2 linked regions of the Homo sapiens genome follow. The protein of the gene in region 2 interacts with the protein of the main gene of each other region in a pairwise test. Each region holds a gene or a part of one and is shown on either strand. Other genes may lie near its edges.

Region 1 (3,500 bases), on a different chromosome or scaffold from region 2:
TACAATGTATGTTACTATGTTACAATGTATGTTACCATGTTACAATGTATGTTACTATGTTACAATGTATGTTACTATGGCCTGTGTTATTGTGTGAAGTGGCCTCTGAAGTTTTTATTTTTATTGAGTTTTTATGTTTTTCAAATAAATCCCTTTTCAAATGCAAATAAATGTTTTTTGTTTTGTTTTGTTTTTGAGACAGAGTCTTGCTCTGTCGCCCAGGCTGGAGTGCAGTGGTGCTTCTCGGCTCACTGCAAGCTCCGCCTCCCGGGTTCATGCCATTCTCCTGCCTCAGCCTCCCGAGGAGCTGGGACTACAGGCGCCAGCCACCACACCCGCCTAATTTTTTGTATTTTTAGTAGAAACAGGGTTTCACTATGTTGGCCAGGCTGGTCTCAAACTCCTGACCTGGTGATCCGCCTGCCTTGGCCTCCCAAAGTGCTGGGATTACAGGTGTGAGCCACCGCGCCCAGACTAAATGTCTTCTAAAGAATCTTTTAAATCATTTTTTTCCTGAATTCGGTTTTTGGAATTTTGACCTTTTGGGATTTCCACACTCAGGATGATGGCACTTGGGATTGTGTCTTTTGGGATTCAATCAGCTCCTGCTACAGAGAGCCCAGTCCAGCAGACCCCTCCTCGGCCCTGATCGCCAGTCAGGCACGAAACTGAGGACCCCCTCCCCAACTCAGAAGCAGGGCCCTGGGCGGGGTACGGCAAGACCCCACAGGCCTCCCGACACAGGGGAGAGAGGGCAGGAGGAGCCTCTGGGACAGCAACGGTGCCCCCACAGGCCCTGGTGGCGGCATCGTGCCCAGCCCTGAACCATCCCCACAGTCACTCCCGAGACCAGACAGATGTGGGCACCATCTGCCGCGTGGGATTCTGGGTGGCAGGTGAGGACAGGGCAGGGGCTGTAAGTCACAAGACACCGCCCCCGCCAAGAGAGGGGAGCCCGAATGTCCACGGATAAGGAGGATGCAGGCCAGCCACGGTTATTTTTAGGAGAGGCCACATAAAATGTAAGCTTCCGGGACAAGCCCAGGACATGGCAAGGTCCACGGGCCCGGGCCGGGTCCATCCGACACCGCGGGCACCGCACCAGCCCATGCACACGCTCGCCTCCAACCTGGGGCTGCACTTGCTCATAGACGCACACGTACCCCTCCACGCACATGCCTGCCGCACACGCTGGCAGCCCCAAGGTGGGCATCCGGCCCTCCCCCAGTGCTAGGACCAGCCCTACTCTCTGCTGCAGGGAACCCCCGCACAGTTCCCGGGGGTTACCACCCCAGCATCTCTAAGTCCGCCTCTCCTGCCCCTCGACAGCCAACCCTGCAATCAAACATGGGTGCCCAGCCCAGGCCAGCCCAGGGACGGAAGTGAGTTCCACCAGCTGGACACTCACAAGGAATGTCCCCTCTGTTGACACAACACACAGCCCAGGCCCAGCCTGCATCAGCATCAGATGCCCCAGGGCCTACCCCAAGGCTGGTCCAAGGGTGGGAAGGGCACCTGGAATGCCCCCGGTTCCCCAGGAGGCTGATCCCTGACAGTGGAGAAGCCTCCAAGGGGCAGGCAGCTCCAGCTAAGGTCCCACAGCCCCCATCTCTTCGCTCCTGGCCTGTCTCTGCTCGACGCACACTGTCCCCCAACACCTTGGCCCTCGGTCCCGCTCTTCGTGGGGGCCTACCCTCCTGTGCGTCTCAGGACCCCGGCCCTGACACAGCCGGGCATCCAGCTGGCCCCCTACAGACCTGCACGGACTGAGTCCCTCCCTCAGTGCTGGCTGGGCAGCAGCAGGGGGCTGCTGGGCTCAGGCTTGCCAAGGAGGAAACGGGCAGGTCCATGGCCAGGGCGGCCGGGCGTCGCGGATGCATGCCGGCCACGGGTATTTCTAGACAAGACTTGCAGGGCCGCCCGTCACAGAAGGAAAAATAAAACAGTCTGACGCGCTAGTTCAGGCTCCAGCAGCAGCCAAGCATCTCGCCAGACCCCGCGGCAGAGAGCAGGGCGGGGCCCAGCCTCCAGAGCCAGGGTCCGAGCAGGGTCCGTCCTCCCCGTCATTCATCCCTGGGGCCAGGAGCTGCTTTCAGGGACACCTGCCTCTGGGCCACAGAGATTCCAGGCAGCTTCCCAGGGAGAGAAGGTGCCTGAGCCTGGCGGTGTGCTGGTCAGTGTCTGCACCCAGCTCCCTGGGAAGGAAAGCGGGGCGTGTGCCGGCTCCTGCCGCAAGTGCTCTCACCTCGGCCCATTTCAGGGTGGAAGCTGCTGGTGCTCAGCCCTGCACAGGGTCACGGGAAGTGAAGCAGCAGGCCACCTGCTCACTGCGCACAGACCTGAGGCCTTGTGTCCAGGACCTGCCCACTGCCCCGAGCCTGGCTCCCACAGGCCAGCTGGCCAGGGCTGCCCGACACCAGGTACAAACCACCAAAAAATACCTCCAATGGGCACTCGCTTGAGGGGCTCAGAAGAGCTGGGCAGGACCTGGAAAGGCTCCTGACATCTTTCGCCACAGAAAGGCAGACAAGACCACCATGGGCAGCCCCCACATGCTCACGAGCCCGGGCGTTATAAAAACAGCAGCCAGCACTGGCGGGAGGGGAAGCCATGGAGGCGTTCGTCCATGGGGATGGGGGCAAAATGGCACCACCTCCTGGAAGCTCCCTGGACAGTGCCCCACAGTCACACACCAGCACCCCTGATCCCTGGGGCCGCTATACACACAGCGAAAACCTCAGGGCCCAAAGAGGACAAGGCCACAGGACCCTGCTTATGAGACAGACGTCCAGGCCAGGGGCCCAGAGACCGAGACAGATCGGTGGCTGCCAGGGCTGGGGGCAGGGGATGGGGAGTGATGCCCTCGGGCATGGGGCTTCTGTCAGGGGCAGGGATGCTCCACAGCTAGCCGTGCCATGGCTGCACTCTTGGGAATGCAGGAAAGCCCCAGCTGCTCATTTGACACAGGTGGGTCCTTGGTATGTGAGTTACCTCTCAGTAAAGGGGCCCTCACTCCAGCGTCCACGATAGCAGCCCACGGGACAGCCCACAACTGAGCATCATTCACAGAGAGCGAGCGAGATCCCCAACATGGGGCAGCTGGGAGGGCGCCGGCGGCCTGCGAGTGACCGGCCAGGTAGCAGTCCTGGGGGCAGTGGCGGGGACTCTCGGGGGCTGGGCGTGCTGCCGCGCGGGTAAATCCAATGCGGGGAAGCCCCGGACCCGCACCCCGGAGGTCAGAGCGCACTTGTGTGTGCCGTGGTCACTAGGAAGCCACACGCCTTTTTCGCAGGGGGTTCGAGGAAATTCCACGTGGGCCTCACAGCGGAGCCCAAACCCTAAGCAAGCCCCACCGGCTGCAGAATCCGCAGGACCAAGTACCAAGGGAACCCAAGGCCCCTTGTTCAGAGTCACTAAGAATTCCCAGAAGCAGAGCAGAAGGGAAGCCAGAGGGGCCCCACCGAGCACCAGGGCCTCGTCGGAGGATCCTCACACCGAGG
Region 2 (3,500 bases):
TAGTCCAGGATAGGAACCGCTGGACTCCTTCACCTGGGACAAAATTAAGCAGATCTCTCTTTCCACTGAAGCCCCGCATATAGTGTCCACGGGCTCCAGGTCTAGAGCTGCTGACCAGGCACAGTTCTCTGCCACAAATAACACGCACAGAGGCAAATACGAATTTCACCCAGGAATTGTGCTCAAACATTACAAACCTGCAACACAGGGGAGAGCAGAGAAAGAGCTGCAAAATAAGGGAAGGGTTTTTTATTTTGGTGAAAATTTAACTAGCAAATTATATAATATTCCAGGAGATGCCAAATCAATTATTCCAAAACTCAGTTTGTTCCAGTTGATGGTATTTTGTAGTTGAGCCTATTTTTTCATCACAGGGTAACACTTCTTTCTTAATTTTGTGGTTTCTAAGGTTGAAAAAACTATATAAAAAAGTATCTGTACCAAGACACATAAATGGTGACACAGACCTACATTTAACACACTCACAAAAACACTCACGCATATACACATTCACTGAAATAATTGGTCTTAAACACAGTAAATCACTACCTTTACTGAGTTACAAAAAATGCACTGTAAATTTGTTTGGTAGCAATATCAGAATTGTCTCAAGAATAGAAAGGTAAATCTACAGTTACAGCATGGAAGAATTTGTATCTGACAAGCAGGATGTAAACTACAGTATACCACCAAATTACTGGGACTTAAATATATATCAAGAAGGAATCAAAGCACCCGCTATACAAGATACATAGAGTAATGCATTTGTTAATGGTGCTTAATGCAGAGACTTAGTACCTATAAGGCATTTTTGAGTAGAATGATTAATTTAAATTCATTGCTTAAATAAAGGCTAGCGAGACGCATGTTTATAATTTTGTATAATTCACAAAATGGGTATTTCTGCAGCTCTCTCTTTCCCCCAGTGTTGCAGGCCGACACATCAAAAGAAAAATGATCAAGATTGTGAATGCCAACATAAAGAGCAAAAGCTATACTTTTCAAAGTATAATGACCCCTAGTAATTACTCAATTGTGTAAATAATACTATGTATAAACCAATACAGTTTCAATATTTATTAAAAATGGGTGTTCTAGACTCATGACTCATGAACACCAAAATCAAAGTAATGAGCTGAAGCAGTAGCAGCACGGTAAGAACATCTCATCAATGCTCTCTTTTTTTTTCTTTTGGCTGTCCCGGCATAGGGGATTCAAAAATGCTGTGTTTACAGCCCTGGTTCTTTTGTAGTTTAATTCTTCCATAAAGAGGTCACAGGATATGAAGAACATAAAAGTTTCTGGTGAGACTCATAATGCCATCAATGTCCCCCACTCTGAATGTCTGAGCAAGTCTTCTCTTTTTGTTCCATTTGTCCCTTTCGGAGCTTTGTTGCTTTCAAAGTTTAAGCAATCTGGAAACACTCTGAAGAGCTTATAGGAAATATAGAATTATAACCTAATTTTCTACCATCTAGTTTGTTCTAAGTGGCTATCTCTTTATAAACAACGGACTGGTGGGATATCATCCGGATTTACTGGCTGCTTTTATTAATTGTAAAAGTAGACATTACTGGTATAAATTGAATAAAAAAATTAAAAGATGGTGATGAAATTTGCTACTGATAACTAAGGACAGGTTGAAAATGCATTAACAAAAAAGCAATAAAAATAGCTGACAATTTCTTAAGGGCAAGGGAATCTTGTTCTTGCCATTTCTTGATAAGTGGCATTTTGATTTTATTCTTTTCAAAATATCCCCAGCTACAACAGTAAATTATTTTATTTTATTTTCTACTCAAACAATAAGCTTTTATTATATTTTACAGATCAGTCATCCAGGACATGCTGCGTCTGTGGTTGGCATCGTCTCATTTCTGAAAGGACTGAATGCACATAAAAGTCTCTTGCCCACGCTGAACTCACACATGCCGGGCAGAAAAGAGCTCTCACTAAGTGTAACTTGAGTGTGAACTTGCTCAGGCAACAGCAATGCCATTCAACAGTAAATATTTTAAATGTTAGTAAGATAATTTGAAGTTCTTTATGTAGCTGTAACAGCTTTGGAACTGAAGTTGAGAGGAGATAAGAATGTTTTAATTTCACTTAAGAAAGTTAATATGGTATTGATACAGGAGCTAGAAATAAATTATGTAGGCACATAGTGAGGGTAAAGGAGTCCGTGGCAAGGCTTCCCTTTTAACAAAAAGCAGCCTCCAAACCATTTCTTTTCTAACAAAGAGCAACCTGAAAAATTGAGCTGCAAACATAAATAAGCAAGCTGGAAGCTTGCACAGGTGAATGCCAGCAGCTGTGCCAATAGAAAAGTACTACCTGGGCTGGGCACAATGGCTCACGCCTGTAATCCCAGCACTTTGGGAGGCCAAGGCGGACAGATCACCCAAGGTCGGGAGTTAGAGACCAGCCTGACCAACATGGCAAAACCCCGCCTCTACTAAAAATACAAAAATTAGGTAGGCATGGTGGCAGGCGCCTATAATCCCAGGTACTTGGGAGGCTGAGGCAGGGGAATCACTTGAACCTGGGAGGTGGAGGTTGCAGTGAGCTGAAATTGCACCATTGCACTCTAGCCTGGGAGACTAGAGCAAAACTGTCTCAAAAAAAAAAAAAAAGAAAAAGAAAAGGGCTACCTGGGGCCAAGCATGTTCAATATGTTCCATCTTCCCTTTTCTTTGTCACCATGTGTAAAGAAATGGGCAACATGGCGCTGGCCAGGTAGAGAACCCATCTGCATAATAAAAGATTAGGGTGGGGGTGGCCAGATTCTTGAATGCTCTGCAAATTGCACACCTAGGCCTAATCAGTTTTTCGTGTGCTATGCAAATGGCACATCTGGTCCAACCAATCTTTCATGCCCTATGTAAATCAGACACTGCCTCCTCAAGTTCATCCATAAAGCCTCCTGCACTTCACCATGGACTAGAAAGCTGTTTGGGACCCCTCTTTTTGCAGGAGAGAGCTTTTCTCTTTCTTTCACCTATTAAGTCTCCACTCCTAACCTCACTCCTTGTGTGTCCTCGTCCTTGATTTCCTTGGTATGAGACAATGAAACTCAAGTATTACGCCAGACGAGCAATGCTGCTTCAGTAGGACTGAGCGGCACGCCTCTCTTTTATACCTAAAATCTCACCATTAGTAATTCACTTCTATGGTTTAAGCCTTTTTCAGGTGTCTGCTAACTAAAATTCAAATCCACCCAGGAGTGACAGCTCATTAAAATGCAAACATTTTATAATAATTTGATTAAATCAGCTATATGATAATCAAAGAAAAAATTACAGTAACTTCAGTGAGAAAGAGTCAGCGTGGAGATCTCAGTTCAATCCAAATAATTATTGAGTACCTGCCAGGTTCTATGCAGGGTGCTGCACACTGGAGATTCAAAAATGAATAAGCCACAGTCCTTCACCTCACAGGAAGGGTTCAAGAAGAGGGGAAAGGGGTTAATACTAAAAGAGAAAAGATGAAAGAAACTGGAG

The links. Proteins that work in one complex are often made in the same cells at the same time.
Region 1: the proteins of PPM1K (region 2) and AATK interact in a two-hybrid assay, tested with the Homo sapiens proteins (one study listed by BioGRID and IntAct).

Annotation. Positions count from the first base shown.
Region 1 is NC_000017.11:81,156,222-81,159,721, forward strand, and holds part of AATK (serine/threonine-protein kinase LMTK1), read right to left. Parts: intron 1-3,500. UniProt on the Homo sapiens protein: May be involved in neuronal differentiation.
Region 2 is NC_000004.12:88,271,062-88,274,561, forward strand, and holds part of PPM1K (protein phosphatase Mn(2+)-dependent 1K), read right to left. Parts: intron 3,394-3,500; coding exon of another isoform or gene 3,365-3,393; intron 227-3,364; coding exon of another isoform or gene 34-226; intron 1-33. UniProt on the Homo sapiens protein: Serine/threonine-protein phosphatase component of macronutrients metabolism.